Homo sapiens: one gene and its partners. The protein of the gene in region 2 purifies or fractionates together with the protein of the main gene of each other region. This does not show direct contact. Each region holds a gene or a part of one and is shown on either strand. Other genes may lie near its edges. The genes, in order: G3BP1, PABPC4, PAIP1 and LARP1.

What was found.
Region 1: the proteins of PABPC4 (region 2) and G3BP1 purify together in Homo sapiens (affinity purification with mass spectrometry; 4 studies listed by BioGRID and IntAct, with this or other methods). This does not show direct contact.
Region 3: the proteins of PABPC4 (region 2) and PAIP1 purify together in Homo sapiens (co-immunoprecipitation; 3 studies listed by BioGRID and IntAct, with this or other methods). This does not show direct contact.
Region 4: the proteins of PABPC4 (region 2) and LARP1 purify together in Homo sapiens (affinity purification with mass spectrometry; 3 studies listed by BioGRID and IntAct, with this or other methods). This does not show direct contact.

The regions. Positions count from the first base shown.
Region 1 is NC_000005.10:151,774,561-151,782,389, reverse strand, and holds part of G3BP1 (ras GTPase-activating protein-binding protein 1), read right to left. Parts: intron 1-7,829. UniProt on the Homo sapiens protein: Protein involved in various processes, such as stress granule formation and innate immunity. Plays an essential role in stress granule formation.
Region 2 is NC_000001.11:39,573,434-39,582,205, forward strand, and holds the start of PABPC4 (polyadenylate-binding protein 4), read right to left. Parts: upstream 3,358-8,772; 5' UTR 2,519-3,357; coding exon 2,326-2,518; intron 1-2,325.
Region 3 is NC_000005.10:43,539,638-43,547,466, forward strand, and holds part of PAIP1 (polyadenylate-binding protein-interacting protein 1), read right to left. Parts: intron 3,480-7,829; coding exon 3,367-3,479; intron 1-3,366. UniProt on the Homo sapiens protein: Acts as a coactivator in the regulation of translation initiation of poly(A)-containing mRNAs. Its stimulatory activity on translation is mediated via its action on PABPC1. Competes with PAIP2 for binding to PABPC1.
Region 4 is NC_000005.10:154,751,112-154,758,831, reverse strand, and holds the start of LARP1 (la-related protein 1), read right to left. Parts: upstream 3,456-7,720; 5' UTR 3,075-3,455; coding exon 2,639-3,074; exon of another isoform or gene 2,310-2,638; intron 1,679-2,309; exon of another isoform or gene 1,542-1,678; intron 1-1,541. UniProt on the Homo sapiens protein: RNA-binding protein that regulates the translation of specific target mRNA species downstream of the mTORC1 complex, in function of growth signals and nutrient availability.

The DNA of each region.
Region 1 (7,829 bases), on a different chromosome or scaffold from region 2:
AATATGACAAATGAACTTTAAAACTGAGTGTTATTTTTAAATAGTGAATAAACATTTCAAAGACAACAAAAGGAAACCCCCAAAATTTATTTAACCAACTCTCACTAGGGAAACTTCTCCAACACCATTCACTTGCTGTGACCTTGAGCTAGTAACTTAATCTCTCTCACCTCAATTCTTCTGTCTGTAAAATTAAAATCAGAATTATAACAATTAAGTGCCTAACAGTAAGCAGGAAATAAATGTTAGCTATTATTACTATCAGTATCAAAATTATTAACTATAAAGAAGAAAACCATTTCTACATCCCACTCTCTTGTGTCACCTGGATGGATATTTTCCTTATTTTCCTAGAGATTAAAATGGAGAATTTCCTAAAGGAGTTAAAAAAAAAAATCCCAAGCATTTAACATAAAACTGTATCTACCTTTTGGATGAACTACAGTTGAGCCTTCAACAAGGTGAGAATTAGGGGCATGGATAGCCCAGAGTTGAAAATCTGTGTATAACTTGACTCCTCAAAATTTTAACTACTAATAGCACACTGGTGATCAGAAGCTTTACCAATAATATAACCAATCATTTAACTATTTGTAGGTTATATACTGTATTCTTACAATAAAGCTAAAGAAAATAAGAAAATCATTTGCAAAATACATTTTCAGTATTGTATATGTTTATGCTGTCTGTTTAAAAGACAAATCGTCTCTCTGAAATGACAGGTAACCACAGCTGCACACCTCAACCTATGGTACAGATCAAGCAATTTAATATTTCCTTGTAATGTCATAACTTTTCTGTTTCTTGGGAGTGCTTTCAGCATCATTAGTGATATTTCGTATGGGTCCCATGGTGTTATTCAAGGCTTTCAGTATTGTACTAAACATGATGAAAACTACTCATTGAAGAGAAATCACTTTTTACTGCATCCAAATTTACTGGAGAGAAGAACTGCTCACATAAAGATGATTAGCATCACACAGTGTTGTAAGCAGATACTTGCAACACAAGCACATTGCAATATTTACAGGAGGTGGCTAGGAAAAAAATTATAGTACAGTATATACTAAAGTTCATTTTATGCAGTTATAACTTAATACTGTATCTTTACATTTGTTTACATTTCTCTTGACTGCAAATGGTGCCCTGAATGGTCTCAAAGTGTTTGTGTGGGTTCATTTTGATAAATTTTAACTCTGTAATAAATCTGTAATAGACTTGTGTATATTTTACAGTAGTAAATAACAGTATCCACATATATTTTATGCATTCATGAAATACCTTTTTCTTAATTTTTTTTATTATTTCTAGGCTATTCAGTTTGTGAGCTTTTTCAAATTGTTACAAATCTCCAAAAAAAATTTTCCAATATATTCATTGAAAAAAATCTGCTCAAGTGGACCTGAGCAGTTCATACCCACGTTTGTTCATGGTTCAACTGTACTACATTAACTTTCAAATTTTCCACTTGATCCCAAGTTTCCAGATTGCAAAGCAACTTCAAAGAAACTCCCCATCAATAATTGTGCTGAAGTTAACAGAAAAATGTTAAGGGTCTAAAGAACTATGAGCATTATCAGCCAGGCGCGGTGGCTCACACCTGTAATCCCAGCACTTTAGGAAGCCAAGGTGGGCGATCATGAGGCCAGGAGATAGAGACCATCCTGGCTAATGCGGTAAAACCCCGTCTCTACTAAAAATACAAAAAAACTGGCCAGGCATGGTGGTGGGCGCCTGTAGTCCCAGCAACTCAGGAGGCTGAGGCAGGAGAACAGAGTGAACCCGGGAGGCGGAGCTCTTGCAATGAGCCAAGATCGCACCACCGCACTCCAGCCTAGGCGAATGAGCAAGACTCCATCAGCTAGCGGCGGAGGGGGAAATAACTATGAGCATTATCCTCCAATTTTTAACAGACGGGCAGGGAAACATAAAGGCAGCCCATACTCCACCTGCATTTTTAATGGCAAAGCTCACTCCAACAAAATAAAAAGTAGCCAAATGCCTTCATAGCCCATTTTCAGTGCCAGTTTTATAGTAAGAAAATATAATATCATATAATAAAAGATTAGTAGAATGTATATAAACCTGCATACAAATCACTAAAAGAGTAACCCAAGAGAAAAACAGGCAAATGAAATGGAGCAGCCAATTCTCAGGAAAGTACTAAATGGACAGCAAACAAAACAGAGTAAGTAACCAGGAAAATGCAATTAATAAAATCACTTCTCACAGGAGATACCTTACAAGAGATGCGCCAAAGTATTAAAATCTCAGTCAACACCAAACATTGGCAACCAAGTAAAAAAAAGAGCCTACAGGACTGCTGAAGATGAAGTCTCAACTGGTACAACCACAGTGGAGAACAATTTTGCACTATCTAATAAAATCAAAAACACTCTGATGAAAATCTAGCAGTTCTCTTCTAGGTACATATACAAAAGAAACTCACCCAAGACAAAACAAACTCACACAAGACAAAAACAAATAACTGCCACCCTATCTGTAAAGTATAACATTGATAACAATCTACATGTCCATCAAATAAGGAATGGATATTAAGTTGTGGTTTATTCACATTAGGGAAACTTCTATACCTAAGACAACCATATGAGAGCACTTTTAAGATTGAAAACAACTACTATTAATAGTGTCAGGTTAACTGAAGTGAATCAGGACTGTCCCTGGCAAACCAAGACATATGTCACCCTATTTATGCCTGCCAGAAAGCGAGCACATAACTCAAAAACATTATTAAAAAGAAAAATCAGTTGCCAAATATGTACTGTGTGATAACGTTACATATATTTAAAAGTGTTTTTAGTATACACAAATACCAGATACCGTACATAGATACACAGGCTAGACATAAAGAGACAAATGGATCCATGAAACAGAATGGAGTTCACTAACATATCCACATGGACAACTATATTTCCAAGAAAAGTGCAAAGACAATTCAGTGGAAAAAGTATACTCTCTTCAACAACTGGTACTGAAACAATTAGATATCATATGGAAAAAACAAAAAAAAACCAGAACCTCAATTCATGTCTCACACCACATACAAAATTTAACTCAAAATGATTCAGTGTAATCAAAGTGTAAAACCCAAAACTGAACTTCTAAAGAAAACTTGCATGACACTAAGCAAAGATTTTAGACACACCAAAAGCAAATGAAGAAGAAAGCGAATTGATCACGTAGACTGCCTCAAAATTAAAACCATCTGCCCTGCAAAGACACCATCAAAAGAATGAAAAGGCACGCAGGCAAGCCACAGATTAGGAGTAAATATTTGCAAGGCATTTACCTGATTGATTGACTGACTGATTTTTTTTTTTTTAGAAGGAATCTTCCACTGTCGCCCAGGCTGGAGTGCAGTGGCGCTCACCGCAACCTCCACCTCCCAGGTTCAAGCAATTCTCATGCCTCAGTTTCTCAAGCAGCTGGGATTACAAGCACACACCACCACGCCCGACTAATTTTTGTATTTTTAGTAGAGATGAGGGTTCACCATGTTGCCCAGGCTGGTCTCGAACCCCTGGCCTCAAGTGATCCACCTGCCTCGGCCTCCCAAAGTGCTGGGATTACAGGTGTGAGCCACTGCGCCTGACCCATATCTCTAATTTTTAAAATACCTCTATCCAGAATATATAAAGTACTCTCATGCCTGTAATCCCAGCACTTTGGGAGGCCGAGGAGGGCATATCACCCGAAGTCAGTAGTTCGAGACTAGCTTGGCCAACATGGTGAAACCCCATCTCTACTAAAAATACAAAAATTAGCCGGGTGTGGTGGTGGATACCTGTAATCCCAGCTACTCAGGAGGCTGAGACAGGAGAATCACCTAAACCCAGGAGGCAGAGGTTGTAGTGAGCAGAGATGGCGCCACTGCACTCCAGCCCGGGCAACAAGAGCGAAACACTGTCTCAAAACAAAAAAATTAATAATTAAGTAACCAATCCCATAAAATATGAGCAAAAGACTTAAAGATATTTCGCCAAAGAAATTATATGAATGCCAAATGAAAAATGCTGATCACTAGCAATTACAGAAATGCAAATTAAAACCTGTGAGGTACCACTAAACACCTGTCACAATGACTAAAATTAAAAAGACTGACCATACACACTGTTAGCCAACATACTGGCAGAACTGGAACCCCCCAAACATCGCTGGTGGCAATGTAAAATGGTACAACCACTGTGGAAAACAGGGAGTTTCTTTAAAAGTTAGGCATACATCTACTACATGATCTAAACATTCCCCTATTAAGCATTTACCCAAGAGAAATAAAGGCGTATACCCATACAAAGACTTGTACACAAAGTTCAGAAGCTTTATTTGTAACAGTCAAAAAGCTGGAAACACACAGCTTCTGCCGTTTTTCAATGCCCACCAACAGGTAAACCAAAAAATTGTGATATGCCTACACAACAGACTAGCACTGAGCAATTAAAAAAAGAACATAATGTATTTACAAAAAAATTCTAAAAAACGCAAAGTAATCTACAGTGATAAAAAGATCAAGGATTTCCTGCAGGGAGAAGGGTGGAAGGAACAAGCAAGAAAGAGGGAAAAGGGACATGAGAAAACTTTTGGGGGTAATGGATAGGTTCACAATCTTGATTGTGGTGATGGTTTCATGGGTATACCTTCTTTTAAGAGTCTCCTGTGTCGCCCAGGCTGGAGTGCAGTAGCATGACCATAGGTCACTGCAGCCTCAAACATCTGGGCTCAAGTAATCCTCTCTGCTGCCTCAGTCTTTTGAGAAGCTGGGATTACAAAAGGTGTCTGAAATTATCAGGCAGTACATTTTAAAAACATGCAGTTTATTGTCAATTATACCTCAATAAAGCTATTTTTAAAAATTCCCCATCAATAAAACAGCCTGGAAAGATGTGAAAAAGATCCCTGGAAGGAAGGGAATGGAAGCCCGTATAGAAAAAAAGGAGTCTTAGAGGGCAATGCAAAATGTCAAATGTTAATTCTGAGTACGATAGTATTTAAGTGGTCTTTTTACTTTAAAAAAGTTGTCAAAAACACCAAGGAAAAACAGCAAGTGTTTGTGTGTACTAACTTGAGAATATATTAAATTTTTGTAAATTTTGTTTCAGGATTATGTCATGTATTCAAACATTTGATATCTGGTTCTCTAAATCGTGGGAATTTAGAAACAAAATCTTTTCCCAGAACTGGAGTAACATGAATACAGAAGCCAACATCTGTGCTCAGAGCAAGAAAAGTATCAACATCACTGGGCCTACTGTCAATCTATTTTTCCAAACTCTTCGCATTTACCACCTGTCACCTCCCTTCACAATTCTTCCTGACGCCTCCTTGGAGAAATGGTTGATTCTGGACCTGAGACAGGCAAAATGCAAGATGAGCCTGAAATACCTGGTAATTAATGAAAGAAAAAACATGCTTTTAAAAAACAGATAAGATAGGGAAGTGTCAAAAGGACAAAGGAGCCAAAAAAAAAAAAAAAAGCTGGAACAACATGAACAACAAAATAAACTGTGGCCAGCACAGTGGCTCACACCTGTAATCCCAGCACTTTGAGAGGCCAAGACAAGAGGATTGCTTGAGCCCAGGAGTGTGAGACAGCCTGGACGATATTTTATAAAAATATAAAATAAATAATAATCAAAAATAAGTAAACATCAGCAAGGATAATTGTGGATTACAACCCAAAGAATAAAATTAATATCCGTGGTCTATAGTGATATAAATGAAAAAAAGAAAAAACATGAAGAATACACAAATCTTCCTCACAGAAAATTTATACTGTAGAAGGAATGAGGAAAATAAAAAAAATCACCATTAGAACCCCGAAGTAATAATAGCTGCAGACGAGATCCATTAAAATGCTAAAATTAAGGAGGGGAACTTTATTTCCATGGCTTCGAAGCATCTCCCCCAAAATAATAACAGTAGCTTTAATATACTTCCACAAATTCACATTCTCCTCCCTCTAGAAAGTAGAGCCTAATTCCCCTCTCTCCTTGAGTGTGAGCTGGACTTGGTGACTAGCATCTAAGGAATAGTATCTAAAGGGGAAAAAAACACTAACCTGACAGATACCACCTGAACCAAATCATCAGGTTAAATTCAACCAGTTATATATTATGGACCCCCAATCTGATGTGATAAGGGTAATTTCTGTGGTATTCTTCCCCCAAAAATCTGTAACTTCAGTCTAATCCTTAACATCAAATCCAAATGAGATCAAGTGTCATGGTCACGAAAGACAAAAGGAAAGACAGAAACTGACACAGATCAGGAGACTACATACAATGTGGCATCTTGGACTGGATCCTAGAACAGAAAAAGGACATTAGTAGAAAAACTAAGGAAATCCAAATAAAGTCTTTCATTAACAGTATTTTATCGATGTTAATTTCTCAGTTCTGTTAAATGTACTTGGATTACATAAGATGTTAACAGTGGATAATGGGTATTCAAGACCTCTCTATTGCAACTCTTCCACAAATCTTACTTTATCTCAAAAATACTGTTTTCCTGAAAGAAAAAAAACTTCAGGAATCAGAATACTTAACAACTATCTTTTATCTTAGTGTATCCCTTCCCCACTCCAAAGTTAAAACCTACTCAGGTTCACAATTTAAAAAAATCTTTGTTCTTTCTCATCACGTGAAAAGATATGTTACAGTTAATACTAATGCTCATCCGCAAAATTCTTAAACAGATCAAGACAGGTGGATACACTCCAGGGAAATCTAGGCAACCTCAGTGCAGAAACAAGGGTGTACTTAAGGCACAGCCTATGGCTTTGCATAAACAGCATATGGGAGAAGCCTGCAAGGGCAGGCAGGTGTCACATTCATACATTCCAGATTCAAAATCCCTCTAAGATTTTTCAATTAAGGAAATAAGCTGGCTATAGTACCCTATTAGGTACCACATGCTTTTCAAAATAGTTTTGACAATTCGGTTTCAGAGCTCCAATTCACTTTTTAGTAAAAGTATGGTAATACCAAAGATGTGTGAAAGCACTCTCTAAATATGCAAAAGGTTACACAAATACATAATGATGCTTTATATAGCCAGTGAAGTTAATAGCCACCAAAGATTACATCCCTACTAAGTAGATGTGTATACCATCCAGGAAGCCAAATTTCTGTCAATCATCTTTAATCTTTACTTTTGATTAAGTACCTAAGATACAACACACATACCAAGAACTTATTACATGACAGACTGGCCACCTGACAGAAGAGGGACTCTATCACAAAGTCGCCTAAAGACCTTATTTACTAAGCTACAGGCTGTGAGGGCAATTTTTTTGAAATTGCTTTCCACCTTGTAAGACAGAATATTAAGACACTATTCGTGTGTGTGAATTATTCCTACTCTTAACCCTATCACCTGGCTTGCAACTTGACCTTCCCAACTAAAGACAGACAGGATGTCCAAGAATACTTTTTTAAAAAAAGTAAATAGCTGATTTCTGAGATATAAAATTATAAACCTAGTGTGCCACCACATTGTGATCACCAACTACATGTAAGATAATAGTTGCTGAATCTAAATTCAACTCCAGGGCTTGTACTGGAGTACTGGAAGGGCAGTACTGCACTACCAGAGATTTTTCCCACTTGCTTTTGACAAATTACTGGGGGGCGGGCGAGGCTTTCCTTTTTTTTTTTGACCTACCTACTTCCACAATTATCCATTCTTCTTTGTAAAGTCAGTAATAGTTTCGTCCAAGGAAGCCAAAGCACAATATAATTAAACAAACATACAATGCCTATTTAAATTCTGAAAGTTAAAAAAAAAATCAATTTGCAAAATGTTAAAAGACC
Region 2 (8,772 bases):
TGGGTGCTCAACCAACTTCCCCATCCAACACCTTGGAATGCTTCCTTAGCTTCCCAACCAAGTCCGTGTGTACACCAGAGACAATTTAAAGAACCAAAGGCTGGGCTGGGTATGGTGGCTCACTCCTGTAATCCCAGCACTTTGGGAGGCCAAGGCGGGTGGATTACCTGAGGTCAGGAGTTCGAGACCAGCCTGACCAACATGGTGAAAACCCCATCTCTACTAAAAATACACAATTAGCTGGGCATGGTGGCGGGTGCCTGTAATCCCAGCTACTCAGGAGACTGAGGCAGGAAAATTGTTTGGACCCAGGAGTCAGAGGTTGCAGTGAGCTGAGATCGCGCCATTGCACTCCAGCCTGGGCAGCAAGAGTGAAACAGTGTCTCAAAACAAACAACAACAAAAAGAACCAAAAGCTAAAAAATAACACCACCTGCCAGCCAAAACACTTCTCATCACTAATCGCAACAAGGATGCCCAGATCTGGTGGCCACTTTTCCTTAAGGCTATGATGGCATCTCCTAACGGTGACATCACCCAGAACCTCCTCCATGAGGGGATTTAGACAGGGTCAGAGCAGTGGAACCTGCTCCTTGCCTCAGGACAACATCTCACTTAAAGGGGGGACAAAATTCCCCAACTCTGCCGCTCCACAAGCTCAACTGTTTCATTAGCCGGGAGAATTTATTTTCACTCATTATTTCCAACAACTTTCCCCACCCCCTTCAGAAGGTGGGCCTCATCTGTGTGGGGGGTAGTTGGGAAAAGGGGAGATGACAAGACCGATCCAAGTCAGGAACAGTCCAGGGAAAGAGGACTTTGCTTGTGATGGCTATCAGAGATAGATAGCTGGGATCGCAAACTATTTCATTAATTAGCAGTAAAGGAGCCCACTTCAACAACAGCTCCTCGTCTATTTCCAGACAGCACTGCACAAGGCAAGCCGGCTTAGTCTGACAAATCTGGCTGCACTTATTTATAGCAGGGAGAAGTCCTGCAGAAGTATGTGTTGGCAGACACACTGACCAATAGCTTCTGCTATCTCTAAGTGACACGACTTTTGTTCAAAAGTCAGTAAGGCAGACAACAGCTAATGTGGTACATTATCCCTTAAAAAGACCACACTCAGCTACCTTTGCGCTCCTATGGCCATGGACAGAACTCAGCTTGGAGCACACTGGATTGACAGTAGCAATACCTAGTCCCTCTCAACATGTCCAATTCTCTGGTCTCAGCCGCAACCTGGGCAGGTAGTAACTCTGGGCCTCAGACAGAAAACAAAGGGGGGACCCCAAAACTAGGGACCTGGAGATGCTTTGCCATAGAATGGCTTGTTTCTCCCAGTAATGATCTCTGCAGTTGTTCCCTTTTAATCTGGAGTCACGTGCAGCCTCTGATCAGGTTTCCTCTGGCCTCCCTCCTGCCACGCCTGCAGCATACCTCTCTCCATGCTCCACGCTAAGGCCACAATCTGAGGTGGCAGAGCACTGTGCTGGGAGTCCTAACTTGGCTTCCAACTTTTTGCATTCGTTCTCCTTCTCAGGAGTCCCATTTTCTTCAGATTAGATGAAATAAAAGGGCTCTGACTAGTGCAAAGCACTGTTACAGCTGAGGTGACAAATGACACCAGATTTTCAAGTGACGCTTCCCTAAACTACCTCCACGACACTCTACAGCACAGAGCCTGGATACCATTTGTCCAGAGTAAAGCACTTCTCCACTCCAGTGGCAAACACACAGACCAAGGAGGTGGCCTGGCACACGCAGCTTTTGTGGCACTAACCTAAGTCTCTGCGAAAGTTTAACGCACAGAAACCTTCCCCCTGCTTCCTGCCTGCCCTGACTGATCCTTTATCAGCACAACATCAGGTAGTCAAGGTTAGTAAAGGTGGCGGAGCGGGCAGGAGCTTTACAATGTAAAACTTTCGCGGGGAATTGTGTTTCAAACGTCCCGCCTTTTTGGCCAGCCTGTGAGGGGCACAAGCAAGGATCTCTAACAGCCCAGCCCCACTGACAAGGACCACACGCAGTGGAATGCCAGTGGCTTCACTCTAATCCTGTTTTACAGTCTCCTTGGTTTCCAACCCCACTACCAGCAACACTAATAAGTAGCCCAAGGTCACCCAGTTAGCAAGTGGTAGAAACAAGATTGAAACTCGAGTCATCTGATGCCAGGTCCGCGTTCTCAATCTCCGCACCCTGCTCCCAGCTTCGGTGGCAACATGCTGTCGTGATGCCGCCCTCCTCGGCAGGAGGGCCCTGCCAGAAGACGACTCCCGGGGTCCTCCGGGCTCCCACGCACGTGTGGGCACAGCTTCTACTCACCGTCGGCCGGCTGCTGGAAGTTGACGTAGGCATAGCCCAGGGAGCGGCGGGTGATCATATCGCGGCAGACCCGGATGGACAGCACAGGCCCCGCGGGGCTGAACTTTTCGTACAGCATGGCCTCGGTGACGTCCGAATGCAGGTCGCCCACGTACAGGGAGGCCATGGGGTAGCTGCTGGCCGCAGCGTTCATCTCCCCGCCCCCCACCACCCCGAGCCCCGCCAGGAGGACTTCTTATCGGGCCCGCCGCAGGACAAAGGGGCGCCTTCGGAGCCCGGGCCCGCGCCGCGGCTCACAGGTGGCACCGGCGCGGCGAGGACGAGCTGGAGTCGGCGGGCTTGGAGACGGGACGGAAACGGGAGGCGGGGGCCGGCTCCCACGGCCGCAGCACCGCAGACAAAAGGCTCTCCGCACAATACGGCCCTCCCCGCGACTTTGCACTTCTCCGCGGTCCTGGTGCGAAGCTCCAAATTTCAAAAAATCAAAGTAGGAAAAAAATTAAACGGGGAATCCCCTTCCGAAGGGTAAAAATCCTTTAAGAGGCGACCGGACGCTGCCCACGGCGGCCTCGGGGACACGCGTTTCTCTATAAATATAGGCCTCGGGCTCCGGCGGTTTAAGATTACAACCGCCGGGGCAGAGGGAAACCAAATCTTTGTGGGCGCCGACTCGGCGAGCCCCGGGCGGGCGGCGAAGGGCAGCACGGACACGTGGTGCGCCGGGGCAGGCGCGGGGCGCGGGGCTCGGGGCCCGAGCGGGGGGAGGGCACGGCGGGCCGGGCGGGCGGCTCACCCCCGGACCGACGGACGGAGACCGACGGACGCCAAGCGCTGCGGCGGCGGGCGCGGGGCAGGCCGGAAGCGTACGAAAGTGACTTCCCCGCGGGTTCTCCGAGGATTCGTTTTTTCTTTTCCTTTTTTTTTTTCAGGATTTTGAAGCGTTTTCAGATTTTTTTTATCTTTTTCTCTTTTTTTCCTCAGGCTGCGAAGCCCGAAAGCGGCGGAGGCGGCAGCGACCCGGGGCGGAGAGAGGCGGCCGAGGGAGCCACCGCTCCATTTATACCCGCCCGCCCCGGGCGCTGCTGGTCGAAGGGCGCCTCGCGACCTGGGCGCAGTCGTGCCCGCCCACTCGGCCCGGGGGCCCGAGGCGGGGCGGCCACGCGAGAGCGACCCGGCGCGGCCGCGCGGCGCTACAGCGACCCCTGGCGCCGGGAGGACCGCCCAGCTCGCGGCTGCGGGAGACCCCAGGGCCCCTTTCTATAACAAATAAATCTTAACACCCTCCCACCCATCACCCGGGAATGGAACCTAGGAGCCATTTAACCTGCACACACGCATGAGGTTTAAAATTAAATGGTATGGGGCTGGGTGCAGTGGCTCACGCCTGTAATCCCAGCACTTTGGGAGGCCGAGGCGGATGGATCATGGAGGTCAGGAGATCGAGACCATCCTGGCTAACGCGGTGAAACCCCGTCTCTACTAAAAATACAAAACATTAGCCGGGCGTGGTGGCATGCGCCTGTAGTCCTAGCTACTCGGGAGGCTGAGCAGGAGAATAGCTTGAACCCGGGAGGCGGAGGTCGCGGTGAGCCAAGATCGTGCCACTGCACTCCATCCAGCCTGGGCAACAGAGTGAGACTCCCTCTCAAAAAAAAAAAAATTAAATGGTATGCCAAATTGTGAAATGAAGGTGACATAAAATAAGTTAAAATAAAATAATAGGTGGTCCAATAGGTAAATGTCTGGGTCCAAATACAATAAAGATTTGAGAAGTTTTCAGGATACCGTTGACCTAGAGGTAGAATCGTCAGGAACTAGAAATGCAAGCAGTATCCATGGGTGATGGGATTTTCTGAAAAGATGAGCACATTTTGGTAAAGCTTCAATGAAACCAAACACAAGCATCCCCTCTATTGACATGCTGGTGGCATTCCCGGACATTTAGTTTGTGTTTAAGGGCACAGAAATACTTTCTGTTCCTATGTTTAAAGTTTCTTCTAGGCTTGGATAATTATAAAAAGACTTTTCATCTGCATGAGAGTCTGGCAGGTCATTTGAAAGTCGTATCACAGGCCAGGCGTGGTGGCTCACGCCTGTAATCCCAGCACTTTGGGAGGCCGAGGCGGGCGGATCACTGAGGTCGAGAGTTCGAGACCAGCATGACCAACATGAAGAAACCCCCGTCTCTCCTAAAAATACAAAAAGTAGCCAGACATGGGGGTGCATGCCTGTAATCCCAGCTACTCAGGCGGCTAAAGCAGAAGAATCGCTTGAACCCGGCAGGCAGAGGTTGTGGTGAGCTGAGATCATGCCATTGCACTCTAGCCTGGGCAACAAGAGCGAAACTCCGTCTCAAAAAAAAAAAAGTCATATCACTTTATAGGACTATGTTATATGGGACTGTCCACACGCATTACAAGATATATAGCATCCCTTCTTCCATAAGTGCCAGGAACCACCTTTGCCATCACTGTGAAAACCAAAAACAGAAATTGCCAAAAGACACAGACATCCCCCTTCAAAAGCACTGATTTAAGTAAATGACTAAAGAAATATGTGTATTTATATATTAATTAATTCAAATAAATGGTTAATCTGAGCCTACTCTATGCCAATGTCAATACAGGGGCTGGAGATACCATGGTGGACCAGAAGTCACTCCCTCTCTCATGGAGTTTATATTCTAATAACTATATTAAATCAAGAAACATTGGCTGGGCACGATGGCTCACACCTGTAATCCCAGCACTTTGGCAGGCTGAGGTGAGCGGATCACCTGAGGTCAGGAGTTCGAGACCAGCCTGGCCAACATGGTGAAACCCCATCTCTACTAAAAATACAAAATTAGCCGGGCATGATGGCACGTGCCTATAGTCCCAGCTACTTGGAAGGCTGAGGCAGGAGAATCGCTGGAACCCAGGAGGCAGCGGTTGCAGTAAGCTGAGATCATGCTACTGCACTCCAGCCTGGGTGACAGAGCGAGACTCCGTCTCAAAAAAAAAGGAACATTTATGGGAGTGCTCCTTCTATAGATTCCCTCCTCAGGAAAGTCTTCCTAGACCTCCTGTGGTCTAAAGTAGCCGTCAACATTGTTAATCACTATCACACCAACTTGTCTTCTTGTCTTCAAGCCTGTTATTCCTACCCAAAATTATGTTGTTCTATATCTGTTTACCTGTTTAGTATCTATCTTTTCCACATTGGTATATAAGCTTCATGAGAACAGGAATCTAGAATAGTGCTTAACATAGCACGTACTAAATGTTCAGTAACTGGCCAGGCAGGTGGCTCACACCTATACTCTCAGTGCTTTGGGAGGCTGAGGCAGGAGGATCGCTTGAGCCCAGACATTTGAAACCAGCCTGGGCAACAGAGTGAGACCCTATCTCTACAAAAAAAAATTTTCTTTTAATTGGCTGGGTGTGGGGACACATGCCTGTGGTCTCAGCTACTTGGGAGTCTGAGGTAGGAGGATCGCTTGAGGCCAGGAGTTGAAGGCTGTAGTGAGCTATGATCATGTCGCTGCACTCCAGGCTGAGCAACAGAGTGAGACTCTGTTACTAAAAAATAAATAGATAAATAAATATTCAATATATGTTTGTGTGTGTGTGTGTGTGTGTGTGTGTGTGTGTGTGTGTTTTCTTGTTTTTTTTGTGGGGGGGGTATGAAATCTTCCTCTGTCACCGAGGCTGGAGTGCAGTGGTGCAGTCTCGGCTCACTGCAACCTCTGCCTCCCAGGTTCAAGCAATTCTCATGCCTCAGCCTCCCAAGTAGCTGGGATTGCAGGCATGCGCCACCACACCTGGCTATTTTTTTTTTTGAAACCAACTCTCGCTCTATTGGCAGGCTGGAGTGCAGTACTGCGATCTAGGCTCACTGCAACTTCCGCCTCCCGGATTCAAGCAATTCTCCTGCCTCAGCCTCCCGAGTAGCTGGGACTACAGGTGCGTGCCACCACACCTGGCTAATTTTTGTATTTTTAGTAGAGATGGGGTTTCACCATGTTGGCCAGGATGGTCTCAATCTCTTGACCTTGTAATCTGCCCGCCTCGGCCTCCCAAAGTGCTGGGATTACAGGGGTGAGCCACCACGCCCAGCCTTTTTTTTTTTTTTTTTTTTTTTGAGACAGAGACTTGCTCTGTCACCCAGGCTGGAGTGCAGTGGCGTGATGTCGGCTCACTGCAACCGCCACCTCCCGGATTCAAGTGATTCTCCTGCCTCAGCCTCCCAAGTAGCTGGAATTACAGGCACCCACCACTATGCCCAGCTACTTTTTGTATTTTCAGTAGAGATGGGATTTCACCATGTTGCCCAGGCTGGTCTCCGACTGCTGACCTCAGGTGATGTATTCGTCTCGGCTTCCCCAAGTGCTGGGATTACAGGCGTGAGCCACACACCCAGCCTGTGTATTTTTTTTTTTGTTTTTTTGTTTTTTTTGAGACTGGGTCTCGCTCTGTTGCCCAGGCTGGAGTGCAGTGGCGCGATCTTGGCTCACTGCAAGCTCTGCCTCCCGGGTTCACGCCATTCTCCTGCCTCAGCCTCCCGAGTAGCTGGGACCACAGGTGCCCACTACCACGCCCGGCTAATTTTTTGTATTTTTTAGTAAAGATGGGGTTTCACTGTGCTAGCCAGGATGGTCTTGATCTCCTGACCTCGTGATCCGCCCACCTTGGCCTCCCAAAGTGCTGGGATTACAGGCATGAGCCACTGCATGTATTTTTTTTTAAGCAACAAAGTCTCACTGTGTTGCCCAGGCTGGAGTGCAGTGGCCTGATCATAGCTCACTGCAGCCTCAAACTCCTGACCTCAAGCGATCCACTTTGGCTTCTTAAAGTGTTGGGATTACAGGCATAAACCACTGCACCTGGCCTAAATATTTGTTAAATAAACAAATGAATACTAGGCACAGATGAGCAAAACCCACACAAGCTCTGACCTCCTGAAGCTTATTGTCTATTGGGGGAGCTTATTACCTATATTACTTTGGGCAAGCTAGTTCACATCTCTGACCCTCAAATTTCTCATCTGAACTATACTAATAAACCTTATTAACAATTAAAAGGGTTATTGTGAGAATAAATGAATACATATAAATACACATAAATTGTTTGGATTAATTTTTTTTTTGAGATGTCTCACTTTGTCGCCCAGGCTGGAATGCAGTGGTGCGATCTCAGCTCACTGCAACCTCTGCCTCTCAGGTTCAAGCGATTCTCCTGCCTCAGCCTCCCTAGTAGCTGGGACTACAGGCATACATCGCCACACTGGGCTAATTTTTTGTATTTTAGTAGAGACAGGTTTTCACAATGTTGCCCAGCCTGGTTGCGAACTCCTGAGCTCAGGCAATCCGCCCCCACCTCAGTCTCCCAAAGTGTTGGGATTACAGGTGTAAGCCACCATGTGCCCAGCCTTGGATGAATGTTAATAGCTATTACTATCAAGCTACATTTGTACTAAGAAAGGAGGCGGAGGCCGGGCGCGGTGGCTCACGCCTGTAATCCCAGCACTTTGGGAGGCTGAGGCAGGCAGATCACCTGAGGTCAGGAGTTCGATACCAGACTGACGGACATGGAGAAACCCCATCTCTACTAAAAAAACAAAATTAGCCAGGCGTGGTGGTGCATGCCTGTAATCCTAGCTACTCCAGAGGCTGAGGCTGGAGAATCACTTGAACCGGGGAGGTGGAGGTTGCGGTGAGCCGAGATTGCGCCATTGCACTCCAGCCTGGGCAACAGGAGTGAAACTCTGTCTCAAAAAAAAAAAAAAAAAGTAAAATAAAAAGAAAGGAGGGGAGTCCCTAAATGAAGTCAGGGAGAACAGCATCTATAAAGGCCCTAAGTGCCAGGCGTGGTGGCTGCCGCCTGTAATTGCCTGTAATTCCAGCACTTTGGGAGGCCAAGGAGAGCAGATCACCTGAGGTCAGGAGTTTGAGACCAGCCTGACCAACATGGTAAAACCCCGTCTCTACTAAAAATAGAAAATTAGCCGGATGTGGTGGCAGGTGCCTATAATCCCAGCTACTTGGGAGGCTGAGGGAGGAGAATCATGTGAATCCGGGAGGCAGAGGTTGCAGTGAGCCAAGGTTGTGCCACTGCACTCCAGCCTGGGCGACTGAGAGAGACTCTGTCTGAAAAAAAAAAAAAAGCCCTAAGGGAGACAAACTGTGGAGTTGTGGGAAATGAAAGAGATGGCCTTAAAACACTTAGGATTTTATCCTCAGATCAAAGAGTAAAGCTGCAGGATTTTAAGAGCAAAGTGCCTTCGCTCAAATTACTTTTTTCTTTCTTTTTTTTTTTTTTGTTTTGAGAGGGAGTCTCACTCTGTCGCCCGGGCTGGAATGCAGTAGTGGGATCTCCACTCACTGCAAACTCCGCCTCCCGGGTTCACGCCATTCTGCTGCCTCAGCCTCCCGAGTAGCTGGGACAACAGGTGCCTGCCACCACGCCC
Region 3 (7,829 bases), on a different chromosome or scaffold from region 2:
AGACTGACAGCTTCAAATAACTGATTTTTCCTTGCTCTCTTTGCCCCTGACTTGACCCATTTGCTTCACACAGAGGAGAAAAAGAAGAAATCCTCTTCTTGGAGCTTATTGTCAGTCATAGTTCCTACAAGGTAACTAAACTAGGCACAATAATCCTGTCACTGCCTTCATAAGTGAACTACAGTGTCAGATATTGTTACTAACATAGATTTTTTAAATGGACTGTAAAAGTTTATCATTTTGTTATTAAGTATTTGTAATCTTTATTGATAAGGTGAGAAAACTCTGGGAAAGTAACTTGCTTCACAAAACTGGTTTTGACAGTTTTCCTTTTCAAGACAAAGGGAAAAGCTATGGGTACTGAATGGTTTCCACGCAGCCAGTTTAGGTTGACTTTGTAAACAATTTTTAACAAAGAAAAAATAAATTACCTCTTGTTCAGTAATTGACTCTGGGTCAGTTTGCCAACCACGAAACCCCAGCACAGCTTACTGTGCTTACGTGGCCAATTCCAATGTTTACGAGGTATATTAACTGAGCAACATCTTCTGTTTAAGTCAAATGTGGTAAGATATTTGTTATCATCTTGTACATATTAAATTCCTCATCAGAAAAAAGTTGGGATATTTATAGATAGTACATTCTGGTTAATAATGGAAGAGATCAGTTAATTAATGCCAAATCAGTTATTTAAAAACACCTGTTGGCTGCTTTTCTGTTACAACTTTGTCGGTAAGAGTTGATGAAATAACTTTTTTTTTCATAAAATGCTATGACAGACTGTACGTTAGGATATGATTATGTACATGCAAACAAATACCTACATAATTGACTAGGTGAAAAGTCAAATTTTTAAGCTAAAGATTTTCAATTATAAAAGCAATGTATGTTTATTTTGGAAAGGTTAAAACAGAAAAAGTATAAAGAACAAAGTCACCTGCACTACTACTAAAAACAAGAGATAACTGCTGTGAAGGTAACTTCCGTTCCATCTTTTTCAAAGTATGTATATATTTTTTAAAGAGGTAGCAGAATTATGCTTTGCTTTTTACTTGTTAGCTCACTAGTATTTCTCTACATTATTATTGACAGGATTACAGTACTACAGAAGCACATATGGTGGGTAACAGTCAATGAGAAGAGTGGGTCTCAATCATAGCTATACAGTAGAATCACTTGGGAAGCTTTAAAAAACCATGTCCTAGCTCCACCTCGTCTAATTACACCAGAATTTCAAAGGGTTCAGACAGGATCTCGGCTTTAAGTATCTAGGTAACTCTAAGGCACAGCCGGGGGTGAGAAGCACTGAAAAATATGAGTGAGCATTCCTGGCGTCCTACCGCCTACAAGTACCCACTCTGAATCTTTACAGAAGCTATAATTTGTGTTTCTTTAATTATAAGTATGGTTAGATATCTTTTTATAACTTTGACATTTGTATTTTTCCAAACTGTATCTATATCTATTTGGCGCTATTCCAAGTATTTTCATTATTATTATTATTTTTGATACGGAGTCTGGCTGTCACCCAGGCTGGAGTGCAGTGGCGCGATCTCTGCTCACTGCAAGCTCCGCCTCCCGGGTTCACGCCATTCTCCTGCCTCAGCCTCCCAAGTAGCTGGGACTAAAGGTACCCGCCACCACGCCCAGCTTTTTTTTTTTTTTTTGTATTTTTAGGGTTTTTTTTTGTTATTTTAGTAAAGATGAGGTTTCACCATGTTAGCCAGGATGGCCTCAATCTCCTGAACTCGTGAGCCGCCCACCTCAGCCTCCCAAAGTACTGGGATTACAGGCATGAGCCACTGTGCCCCACCTATCATTTCACTTTTAATAAGTCTCTGACATATTTGGGATTTCAGCACAGAGAGTGAGATGGGAACTCATCTTTTTTTCCCAAATGACTATCCAGTTATGCTACCAGCACAATTTATCCTTTTTATCAAAAGCTTGAATTTTCAAGGGTCTCTGGGGTCTACTTCTAGAATCTTTATTCTGTTCCACTGCAGTTTAACCACACAATGGAATGCTTTGCAATCATTAAAAGTCACTTAAAAAACTAATGGACGAACTATAATAAACTTGAAGATAACCTTGTTACTGAAGACATCAAATTATAAGAAAACTAGTTTTCTCTAAATTAGCTTATAAATTGAGTATTATCTCCAAAATATCTAACATACTAGCAAGACTTGTGTAATTTCAAACACTGATTCTAAAGTTCATTAGACGAAACAAGCATAGCAAAGAATATTTGACAGGCTGGGCGTGGTGGCTCACGCCTGTAATCCCAGCACTTTGGGAGGCTGAGGTGGGCGGATCACTTGAGGTCAGGAGTTCGAGACCAGCCTGGCCAACATGGTGAACCCCATCTCTACTAAAAATACAAAAATTAGCTGGGCATGGTGGTACGCACCCATCATCCCAGCTACTGGGGAGGCTGAGGCACGAGAATCGCTTGAGCCTCAGAGGTAGAGGTTGCAGTGAGCCAAGACTGAGCCACTGCACTCCAGCCTGGGTGACAGAGCAAGACTCGGTCTCGGAAAAAAAAAAAAAAATCCCACAAAAGAACAAAAAACTAATTACCCTAAGATATTTTTAAAAATGATAGCTTTTGGCAGTGCAGGGTGGCTCATGCCTGTAATCCCAGCACTTTGGGAGGCTGAGGTGGGTGGATCACATGAGATCAGGAGTTTGAGACCAGCCTAGCCAACATGGTGAAACCCGTCTCTACTAAAAATACAAAAATTAGCCGGGCATGGTGGCGGGTGCCTGTAGTCCCAGCTACTGGGTAGGCTGAGGCAGGAAAATCACTTGAACCTGTGGGAGGCAGAGGTTGCAGTGAGCCAAGAGCGTGCCGCTGCACTCCAGCCTGGGAGACAAAGTGAGACTCCATCTCAAAAAAAAAAAAAAAAAGCTTTTTAATAGCTATTGTATGAATTGTATGGTAATAAAAAGGAACAGAATAAGTGATAAATGGAATGAAAATCCAGAATCAAAACCCAAATAATGCAAGTGTGATAAAAGTGGCAATTCAAATCAATAAGGAAAAATGGATTATTCACTTTTATTCTAATCTAAATAAAATTAGATCCTTATTCAAACCAAAGCTACCAAAGTAATAAGAATTACATAAGTGTTTATTTTTAAGATCTTGGAAAAGGAAAGATCTTTCTAAACACAAAACCAAATTCACAGACCATTACAGAAAAAAGACTGGTATACTGAACTATAAACTTCAAATATAATGCACATAAGAATAGGCTGCCCTATTCTTTCCTGCAGCTTTTTATAATATATGGTCTGAGGAATGGTCAAATTCTAGTATATTTAGAAGTAGTTTTCCTTTAATTTCACATTTACACTGACCTTTGAAGTAGCAATTGGCGGAAGTTGCCACTCTGTGGGCTAATTGTCAGATGATGGGACAGGTAATTACACAGGCGAGCTCCCATATAAGAGAAATTTGGGATAGATGTGGCCTTTTAAAAAGAAGAAAAGTGTTATATGACATAGGTACATCATTATTAATGTAAATACTTAACAGCAACATTCTAAAGAAGAAAAAATTGACTCCCCAAACTGACCATATATACAAGTCTTTTGTCATTGTTAGGCTTAAGGAAATTAAATTCACTTTCCCTCCCAACCTTACAGCAAGAACCACAATAAGTACAAAAAAAAAAAAAAAAAGAAAAAACCCATCAGTTACCTGAGGCTACCAGAAAGCGAAGAGATAATGTCTCCTGATGCTAACCCATTTTTTGCAGAAAACCTGTACATGTCCTCAACTGCACAGTGACAATTATGAATGAGAATACTGCCAAACTGTTGACCAGTGGGGCTTCTTGGGGCAGGAAAGCACAGACTTTTTAGTGTTTGGCAGTCCAGGACAAGATTCCCTGGCATTTTGCTTCATGACTTTGGACATCAGTAAACCTCCCTGAGCTTCAGTTAGACTTTAAAGAGGTGATTAATGGTAACTGGCACAAGCAACTAACACTTAAACACTCCAAGAATGATTGGGTAAAGGGGAAATGAAAACAGCTAAGCTACTTAAAAACAGAAAAAAAAAAAAGTAAGAAAACACTACACATCAAAGATTGTTGATATAACTGAAGCAGTGTTCAGCAAGTTTAACTTTAATTGCAATTTCTAAAGAATAGTAGAGAACATAGTTTACCATCTAATATTAGGTAAGAAAACACACATTAAAAGGTTAAGAAGTCGGGCACAGTGGCTCATGCCTGTATTCCTAGTACTCTGGAAGGCCAAGGCCAGAGGATCGCTTGAGGCCATGAGTTCAAGACCAGCCTAGTCAACACAGTGTGACCACCATCTCTATAAAAAAATTTTAAAATTAGCTGGGCACGGTAGCATGCACCGTAGTCCCAGCTACTCTGGAGGCTGAGGTGGAAGGATCACTTGAGTGTAGGAGTTCAAGGCTGCAGTGAGCTGTGGTCACGCCACTGCACTCTAGTCTGGGTGACAAAACAAAGCCCCCATCTTTTTAAAAAAAAAAAAAAAAAAAAAAAAAAAGCTAAGGGACTTGGCCACAAATGTAATTGAACATAGAATCTAGATCTAACAAATGTCCTGCTACCCCTCTGACTCTATATGTTGGGTCTACTTACTAACTTTTATTTCTAATTATTTCCTTGCTCACATGGGGCCAGTATATGTCACATTAAGGGAGAAAGAGTGATTTCTCCTGACATCATGTATGTTTAGCTGGTACCCAAGACTTGGTTCACCCTTACATTTTTCCCATTATTGGCACTGCATGTTTTCCTTTAGCTTCTTTTTAGTGTTATAACACGATTTAAAGACAAGTTCTATAAGGCTTGTCATTCAACAGTTTCCTACTTACATCCCGGTTTTACTCCCAAAGACAACCACTTTTGACTTCTTCAGCCAAAAATGTTTTAATCCCCATATCTCCGCACTACGTAATTTTTCAGTTTAGATGTTATTTCTTACTGCAACTTGAGCATCCCTGTCCAAAAATCTAAAATCCTCCAAAAACAGAAAATATGAGTGTCCACATAATGCCAAAAGTGGAAAATTCCACACCTGACCTCATGTGACAGGTCAGTCAAAACACAGGTGTACAACACATAATTTATTCAGCATCCCCAAAGGAAAAAAGACCCTGTCAACCCCCTTCAGCTGTAATATACTTAGGTACCCTCCCTGAGGTGTCTCATTATATACTGGATATGCTAAATCTGAAAAAATCCATCTGAAATGCTTGAAATCTCAAGCATTTCAGATACGGGATACTCAACTTACAGTTTCCCATCATGGAAGATGAGCTTTTAGCTTTCACCCTGCTTAATTTCACCCCACTCTACTATTTCCTCCTATCACAGTATGGTTATGATTTTATTCATTTGCTGTGTTTTCATTTATAGCTGAACCATGTATTACACTGCTTTTACTTTTGCACAACTTTGTCTTCCCTAGATTCAGTTTTTACTACACTTTTATATTCTTCTCATTGATTTATCCCTAAACTCACTACTCTGTAAATTTCTTCTTATGTCTTACAGCATGTGTGCTCATCTTATTACGGAAGTCTTTCCTGGAGCCTTCTGACCTAGTCCAGTGAAGCCTGGCTGCTTCAGACCTACTATGCATGCTGCTATTGTTTTGAGATCTCCTTTGAACCATCATCTGGACAGTTCACTTAGTCTCTCCTGTAGAGTTCCTTTTCCTGGTTCCCATGTCTTCATCCGTGGCATAACTCCTCTTTTTGACAGAGTACGTCCTTTGTTAATTTCATAAGAAGGGTTACAACAAAATTTCAAACCGGCTGTTCAGTGTAAAAAGATCTGGATGGTCTAACTTTTTAGATTCTCAAGCAATCCTTTTAGCCTCATTCCATCCTTATTTTAGAACCTTTTAGGTTTTGCACTGTAAGTCATGGTGATTCTCAGCTTTACCACCACTGGCTTGGAATTCAACGTTAGATCTGCCAAATCAGGTACCACTCACCCACCTGCTTTCTAGTCTTCAAAACTAGTGCTTTTCTTTTCCTCTTCTCTGTCCCTATGAGCTTCCGCCTTTTAAAAATCCCCATAGCATCATTTTAGTGGTGTTTGGGAGATATCAGAGTTGAATGTGTATTTAATCTGTCATTTTTTTTTTTTTTGATTCAGAGTTTCGCTCGTTGCCCAAGCTGGAGTGCAGTGGCGCAATCTCGGCTCACTGCAACCTCCGCCTCCCGGGTTCAAGCGATTCTCCTGCCTCAGCCTCCCGAGTAGCTGGGATCACAGGCATGCACCACCAAGCCCAGCTAATTTTGTATTTTTTTTTAGTAGAGACAGGGTTTCTCCATGTTGGTCAGGCTGGTCTTGAACTCCTGACCTCAGGTGATCCACCCGCCTCGGCCTCCCAAAGTGCTGGGATTACAGACATGAGCCACTGCGCCTGGCCTAATCTGTCATCTTTTGTAATACTTCCTCGTTTGTTAGTTGCTATGAGTAAATTTCCATAAATTACCTCAATGAAACTTAGCAGCTATTGATAAACCTATGCATCATTGATCATAGAATATTAAAACATTAAACATACTGACTACATATTTGACAATCAGAGAAATAGTTGACGCTTATCAGGTTACTGACCCTTTGTCCAGCCCTGAATAAGTATAATTACGCAGCCTACTGAATAACTGAAACTAAATAGTGGAGGAAGCCAGAAAGGCAACAAGAAATAAATACATTTGTTTCATTTTCTTATCTCATATTCCTTTTCAATCCATTTATCAGCAGAAAGCAGAAATGAGGACAAACAGTGCAGTTCTGTCTTCCTAACATCTCAGGTACTTCCTCAAAACTGACAGTTGGCTAGGTAATCTTGGGGTCCAGTAACCATCCAGAATAACTTGGAAAAGCAGCCAAATGAAACATTAGGATAGAAAATAATCATTAATTTGCATTATAATCTCCCTTCCATATATTCCAAATTTGAGTTGCTCTTGTAACAGTGACTTAAAGAACCTAAAGTTTACATTTCTGATCATGGCCCATTTTTTTTGACCAGTCTCACACTGACTAAGAAATTTTGTGTTAAGCCAGTGTTGTCTACTGTATTTTTCACTTTTAAAATAGCATTAATGAGGCCAGGTGCAGCGGCTCATGTCTGTAAAATCCCAGCATTTTGGGAGACCAAGGCAAGCAGATCACTTGCGGTCAGGAGTTCGAGACCAGCCCGGTCAACACGGTGGAACCCTGTCTCTATCAAAAATACAAAAATTAGCTGGGCATGGTGGTGCACACCTGTAATCTCAGCTACCTGGGAGACTGACGCAGGAGAATCGCTTGAACCCGGGAGACGGAGGTCGCAGGGAGCTGAGACTGCGCCACTGCACTCCAGCCTGGGAGACAGGGCAAGACTCCATATCAAAAAAAAAAAAAAAAAAAAAAAAAAAGCGTTAATATGTTAATGACCAATATGCTGGGATAAAAACTAAATGTTGTATAATGAAACAATTTCAACTGACTAAATTAGACTTTCAAGGAATTAAGATGAAATCCTTAAATTTTAAAAGAAAGCAAAGGCAAGTAGAAATGCTAAGACAAGACATTTTATGGTTTGGCTTTCTTTTTTTTAAAGACCTACTTATGAGGCAAGCAAATTCTCTCAATTTTTTTCCTCCCCTACTCTAATACTACTATTCAATTCAACACATAGGGGAAAAGAATTGCAGTCTTTTCTGGTACTGCTAATTTCAGAGCCTGCAAAACAAGGGGCAGGGTTTTGGTGGGGGTGACACTTATGTAGCCTTCGTTTTCAGTGCCCATATCACCTTCTATACTATACTGCTT
Region 4 (7,720 bases), on a different chromosome or scaffold from region 2:
AACATATTTTATTACTAGTTACTGCATGTGTCCCTTAAAGAACTAAAACACCAACATTTGAGCCAAAAGTAAGGCTAAAAATAGGCATTTACAGCAAGCTTTGGAAAGCTTTTAGTTTGCTTATGAGGTACTCATTTCTGTAGACTCCCAAAAACATGTGCATCACAGAACACAAAAATTCCCAAGACCACACAGCCACTCCACTAGTGTCACGTTTAAATTTGTCGAAGCTGTAAATAAAACCAGGGCTGGAAAAGCACTTCAGAGATCCACGTAGGCTCCAGAGAAAGGGTCATCATCTAGCCTTACCAGACTGACAACCCAATCATAGAATTCTCTCTCAAAATGCACACAAACCCTAACAACAGGCTTAGAGAGAGAAGCTACTGGATTAACTTGAGTTAGGCTGTCAAAACCTATTCCAAAGGTTCTAAACCAACAAGTAGACACTCTCTTGCCTTAAGATTCCAAAAAACAATAACAGAGCAAATCTACCCTTACTCAGAATTTTGCTTTGGGCACTTAAAGCAAGTCAGCTTCTCCACTCAGAGGAAAAGGTGAGATGCCAGCCAAGCTGTCTTCTTCCCACGATCAATAACCCCAGTGACGCACACTATCAAGGGCTCCTGGACTTACACAAAATGCCAGCTCAGGCACCCAATACCACCTGATGTCACGGTTGATTTAAAACCCACAAGGTAGGTTCACCATTAGCCAAGCCAGGATGAGTAGCCCCATTTAAAAGGAGTGCTCTCTCCCGGGGATGATTATACCCTTTTGAGTTTAAAGAGGGGAGAAGGACCAAAGAGTGTTTTAAAGTTGTTTTCCTTCACTCTGTGGGTGGATAGGAGGGACTGAAAGAAAACGGAGGTTTCAGCACTGTCTTTTGCATAAAAGGGCTCTGGAAGGGAAAGGGGGGAAGGGGAGGAGGGGGGAAGGGGAGGAAGGGGGAAGGGGAGGAGGGGGGAAGGGGAGCAGGGGGGAAGGGGAGCAGGGGGGAAGGGGAGCAGGGGGGAAGGGGAGCAGGGGGGAAGGGGAGCAGGGGGGAAGGAAGAGAACACAGTATGAAGGACTGTTAGTAAACCCCAAATGTCCCCTCCTCCAAATGAAGCAACCTGAAAAGAAATAAAAATTGCAACATGCTGTTTTCAGGACTGGCTATTCTGGCTTCCCTAGGACTAGCAGTGCTTCTACTCCTTTGACGGTGAAGACATTAAGCTCCCCCTTTATTTTTGATGGTTTAAACCAGTTAGCCTCAACCAGCTACGGCAGGTGAGTTTTTTAAAAGCACCAGGGCTACGACCAGAGGCCATCATTCCAACTGCAAGACAATTTTAAAACCGACCCACCACAAACGGACCCAAAACCAAAGAATGGAGACCCGCCCTATACGCCGGCCGAGAGAGGAGAGTGGGCGCGCCCCCCCCACCCAAGCCGACGATCTATTCTCGGCAAAGGCAATGCAAGAGCAGACTCCATATTCTGCACCGCCTCTCCCCCCACGCTGACACGGCTCTGCTGGGATTTCCTGCACCCCTTACCTCCCCCCGGAAAGGGGCACGGTCCAAAAGGACCAAAACGCGGAGGAGGGAGAGGGAGGACTCGCGGAGCGCCGGTCGGCAGTCACATGCCGCTCCCCGCGCGGGGAGGCACCACGTTGTCCCGGCTGCAGAGGAATGCTGGGAAGGGGGGACGCGCACACACCCGCGCCGCGCACACGCACACTCGGGCCGCGCCGCGGGCCCGCACCCTCCTGCCACCCCCAGCGCCGCGGCCCGCACCGAACGCCGAGGCCGAGCGGCCCGCGGGCCGCCGGCGCGGCGCATGGCGCCCAACTGTCACCCGCCCGCCCAGGCCGGCCACTCCCTCCCCCGCCGCCACACGCCCCTCAAGTCGCCGCAGGCCCCTCACCCGCCTCACATTTTCCGCCAACCTCCTAACTGGCTCCCCCAGCACACTCGCCATCGGGCTCCTTCTTAAGGCGGAAGGTGCCCGGGATCGGGGAGGGAAACCACCGAATTCGATGACACGATGGGTTTCTTCTCCCCACAACTGACCCCTCAACCCGTCTCCAAATGGCGATTCTAAAGCCCAATTTCATCTCCCCGAGAACAAAACTTGTTAACTTTTAATCCCCGCATCCGTGCGGCCAGCATGTACTCCGCGCCGGGCACTGGGTTGCCCGTGACATATGCTCATTAAACATTTACAACATGGGGACGCTCGCAACGCTACCAAAACGGGGAGCGCCGGGCGGGGTGGGAAGAGGGGCTTCCAGAGGAAGGTTCAAACCAGAAACCGTCTCTTACACCAGCATGCGGTGGGGATCGTTTCACTGAAACCAGCGCCCACCCTCTGCCGACGAGGTAGGCCCGAACCACACCGTTGCCCACTAACCGCTGCGGCCCAGGCGGTGGCCGTAGCCTCCCGGAGGCCGGGCCCTCGGGCAGGGGCAGGTCCCTGAGTGTACGGTGGGGGGGAGGGCGCGGCGACCAGGATCAACCAGGAGGCAATTTTAAAAAGTCCCGAGTCACCATGACCGGTAGCAGACCCCGGGGCCCTGGAGGTGCTGGGGGAGGGGACTCCCATGTCCCCGGAAGAGGCCCCCGGACCCAGGAGGGCAAGGAGGGAGACCCACCTGGGGGGGACTGTCCGTTCACGGTGGTCAGGACCGGCGGCAATGCGTTCTTAGTCCACGGGTTCACCTTGGGCGGGGGGGCTTCCACGAAGTCCCGGCGCCCCGCGCCCGCGGCTCCGGCAGCTCCTCCGCCAGCGCCTGGCTCGCCGCCGCCCTCCTCCCCGTCGCTGATGGCCGGGCCTTCGGCGCCGGGCAGCTGCAGCGGCCGCGGGCTCTCGCGCTCCTGCTGCCCGGTGCCCTCCTTGTGCGGCTTGGCGCAGGGCGGCCGGGGTCTCCGAGCGCTGCCGTCCGGCTCCCCCCCGCGGACGTCGTTTGGCCCGGGCTCGCCCTTGCCCTCGGGCGCCGGCGGCGGCTTCTTCCTCACCAGCCCCCCGTGCTCTTCGGCCTGCAAGAGCGTGGCGCCCCCAGGCAGCAGCGGCTCCACCTGAGTGGCCATCTGCGCGCCCGCCCCCCCGGAGAAGCCGGGCGCGCCCGAGGCTGCCTCCCCCGCCTCGAACTTGGCTAGCAGAGCGCCCGCGACGCCTTCCTCCGGGGCGCTGGGCCCCAGTCCCTGCAGAGAAGGGTCGGGGTTCACGCGAGGTGCGGCCCCCTCCCAGTTAGATGCAGCCGCCGTAAATCCGAGGCCCACTAGCGGGGCGGGGGGGGAGGAAGGCCCCCCACTCTGCAGTCCAGGCCTCCTAGGCGTGCGTCCCCCCCCGCCCGTTCCTCGCAAGACGCCCCCACCCCGAGCCCGGCAGGCTTCTAGTCCCGTCCCTCCCTCCCCCCCGCCCCCGGGGCGGCCCGGGCTTCCCGGCTCGGGGGCTGCAGCAATATGGACGGACGGGGGAGAGGCGCGGCGAGCCAAGCAGACCACGCGATCCGCGGCAGGCGGCGGGCGGGCGCGCGCCTCACGACGCGGCGGGCGAGGGGAGGGGACGGCGCAGCGGGGGCGCGCCGCTGGCCGGGCCCTGGGCGACGGGCGGGCAGGAGGCGGCGGGACGGCGCGCGCACGGCTACGCGGTCCTGCCCCTCGCCCCGCCCCTCGTCTCCGATTCCTCAGAGCACCTCCCGGGCTGGGGGTAGGGACGCTCAGACCGGACGGGGGCGAGCACGTGCCTGATGCAATTCGGGAGTTGTCGGTGGGGGCGCTGACGGGGATAGGAGAGAAGGCTGGGCGAGGAGGGGAGGTATCTTAAAGGGCCAGCGCGTGAGAGCGGCCTCAGGTGGAGCACATGGGACCCGGCCACGCGGCCTGCCGGGCCTGCTCGTGCTCTTTAGGCTGGGTGTCAGATTCAGGGGAAGGAGCCATTAGTGTCATTCCTGACTTCTAGGAGGCCGAAGGGAGGACCCTCATCCGCCCCGAGGACGCGCCAACGCCGCCCCCTCCCCTGTGCCCGGCGGGCCTGGCCCCTTCGGTCCCCGCCCGGGTGACCTTGGTTGGGTGAGCCGTCCGCACCTCAGTGGGTTGTGCTCCGCGCCTCGCCGCCGCTGGGCCTGGCCTCGACACTACCCGGAGATGGGTTCAACTCCGGGCCTGGAAAGCGAGTCTTTAGCCCTTGCGGGCAGCCGGCGCCTAGGAAGTGGGAACGGAATTACTAAAGCCCTCACCCAGGCCAGGCCCTTCTCCCCGCCGCGAAACCTTGTATTTATGGGCAGGAAATGTCTTTTCTTTCAAGTGGATGTCGTTTTTTTTCTAAAGAATTGCTTTGGGCGGAGTTGAACCGTCCCTGGATTGGGACTTCTGAGATCTGAGATTTTATCCTGGCCCTGCCCCCTTACCATCTCTGCAGCAGTGACTTCCAGCTTCGTGGGCCTCAGTTTCTCTATTGTAAAATGAAGGAGCAGTGTATGACAGCAGTTTCAAACTTCAGTGTACATTCGATTCAATACTTACTGACCTCGTACTGTGGGGGCCTTGCAGGGTTCTAGGAAACGGGTTTGGTATAAACTAGGCTAACAAAGTCCCTATCCTCATGGAATTTATTCTAAGGTGGGGAAAGAGACAATAAACAAGTAATAAATTATTGTCTAGTATCTATGAAGACAATAGTTAAACTGTGGTAATCAGTTAGACTAGATGGGCTACTTTTGTTTGGGTGATAAGGGAAGACTTCTTTGAACGCAGATGCCAAAGTATTAGGAATCAGGCTCGGTCTGGGACTGGACCCAGAAATCTGCGTGTCTAGCAAGATCCCTTTGGTGCTTATGACTTCACTTGGAGAAGTCCTGGCTTCTGACTGGCTGTGATCCCACGTGCTCACATAACATAACAGCCTGGAATGTTGGCCATCTCCAAAACAAGAATTAGAGCACACGACCTGCTGGATCTAGGAGAAGACTGAATGAAAAGCCTCTTGGAACTGCCCCAGCCAGCAAAGCTGAGCTGTAGGATTGTTGTAACCAGTATGGGGGAGAAGTACTGGTAGGGATAGCCAGGTAATGCCATGTCTACTTCCAACTCTTGGGTTATTCAGCCTCCAAGCCTTGGCCAGCTAGCCGCACTTCCCTGGACCCCTCTCCTGGTGGAAAAATGGGGGTAAATAATGCCTGACTTGCTTCCACCCTCTGAGCTCATGTGAAGGTCAAGTGAGACAATGTTAGTCAAGGTGCTGTGTAAATTTTATAGACAAGCCAGTACGTCAAAAGAGCTACCAAGGAAGGTAATGTTACTCAATGAATTAAACCAGGAATCTACTAAGTTCATTACATGTACTCTTAATCAGAAGGTAAATTATTGCACATTGCCACTGAAATGCACTATTTATTTATTTGAAGAGATGAGGTCTGTCACCCAGGCTGGAGTGCAGTCATTGTGATCATGGCTCACTGCAGCTTCAAACTCCTGGGCTCAAGCCATCCTCCTACCTCAGCCTTCGAAGTAGCTAGGACCACTGGCACGTGCCACCATGCACAGCTTTATTTTTACAAATTTATTGATAAGTAATCCCTGAAGAGATTATTCACTCTAGACCCTCTCTAAACTTTGTTAATAGGGGACATAATTATTATTGTTAGTTGTTCTTTTTGTAATTGGAGGTAGAGAAGTACCCTCCCCTGACCCCTGAGAACTCGTGAGGGTACGAGGGCACTGTGTGGACAAGAAACTCGTTCATGCTACTCAGCAGTCAGAAACAGGGTTGAACAAGCATGGCCAGGCCCTGCTGTGTAGAGGGTGGAGGGGTACTGAGATCTGCCTACCCTGGGCCTGCTCTGCCCCAGAGAGAGACAAACTAGGGCCAGAGAAAGTAAGAGACCTGTGTGAAACAACATCTTTTTTTTTTTGACTCTTACTCTGTCGCCCAGGCTGGAGTGCAGTGGTGGGATCTCAGCTCACTGCAACCTCCGCCTCCCGGGTTCAAGCAATTCTTCTGCCTCAGCCTCCTGAGTAGCTGGAATTACAGGCGCCCGCCACCATGCCCAGCTAATTTTTGTATTTTTAGTAGTGATGGGGTTTCACCATAATGGCCAGGCTAGTCTCAAACTCCTGACCTCAGGTGATCTGCCCACCTCAGCTTCCCAAAGTGCTGGGATTACAAGTGTTAGCCACCATGCCCGGCCGAGACAACATCTTAGGCTTAGAAGCTGTTAGAACTGGAAAAAGGAATCATAATGATTACTCATTCTCCTTGTTTTGCAGATGAAGAAACCAAAGTTCAGAAAAGTGAAGTCCAAGGCCGGGCACAGTGGCTCAAACCTGTAATCCCGGCACTTTGGGAGGCTGAGGCAGGCAGATCACCTGAGGTCATGAGTTCAAGACCAGCCTGGCCAACATGGCGAAACACTGTCTGTACTAAAAATACAAAAATTAGCTGGGCATGGTGGCGCACACCTGTAATCCAAGCTACTCAGGAGGCTGAGGCATGAAAATTGCTTGAACCCAGGTGGCGGAGGTTGCAGTAAGCCGAGATCACCCCACTGCACTCCATCCTAGGTGACAGAGCAAAACTCCATCTCAAAAAAAGAAAAGAAAAGAAAAAGGAAGAAAAAGAAAAGTAAAGTTCCTTATCCAAAGTCACACAGCAGAGCCAGACAGAGCTAGGTCTCATACCTGAATCTCTTTATCCTAAATCCAGTAGTTTTTTCTACATTAAAATAATGAAACTGGGGCTGGGCATAGTGACTCACACCTGTAATCCTAACACTTTGAAAGGCCAAAGCAGGAGGATCACTTGAACCTAGGAGTTAGAGATCAGCCTGGACAACACAGTGAGACCCTGTCTCTATTTTTTTTAAGTTTTAATAAAAAAATGATGGAATTGGGATTTGAATTCAGGTTTTTTTGATTCCTAACCAACTATGGTATTTTATATGCATATATTTCTAAATACAGTCATCCTCCCTTATCCCAGTGCATGCCTGAAACCCCAAATAGTACCAAACTCTATATATACTATGTTTTTCCTATATATACTTACCTATAATAAAGTTTAATATATAAATTAGGCACAGTAAGAGATAAACAACAATAAATAATAAAATAGAACAATTATAACCATAGACAGTAATAAAATTTATGTGACTGTGCTCTTTCTCTCTCAAAACATCTTATTGTATGTAATATTTTCTGACCACAGTTGGCCACAGGTAACTGAAACATCAGGAAGCAAAACCACAGATAAGAGGGGACTAGTAATGACCAAATAGTCAGTAATGACCATTTAGTAATGACCAAATAGTCAGGAGTAATGACCAAATAGTCAGGAGTAGCTACTTTTATTGGGTAACTAGTGTACGCTAGGTTCTATGGGAAATACTTGATATTCATTATCTCATTTAATCTTCATAATAACCCAGTGGGATAGTTATTATTTCCTTAAATGTCTACTGAGCCCCTACTATGTGCCAGGCACTACAGGCTAGGTCCTGGAATGGTTATTGTCTTCAAATTACAAAGGAAGGCAATTGAAATTCAGAAAAGAAAGTAAGGTGGGTACTCAGCATCATAGGCAGCAGCTAACTATCAGAGTGGGGTTTTTCAGGGTGTTCTATATCGCCAGGCCTTATTCTTACTCACTGCACCACTCTGTACAGCCTACTTCTCTTCCCTCCATTGCCATATCCATAAGTATTTATGGAGAATCCCTCAAATACTTAGGCCTCAGG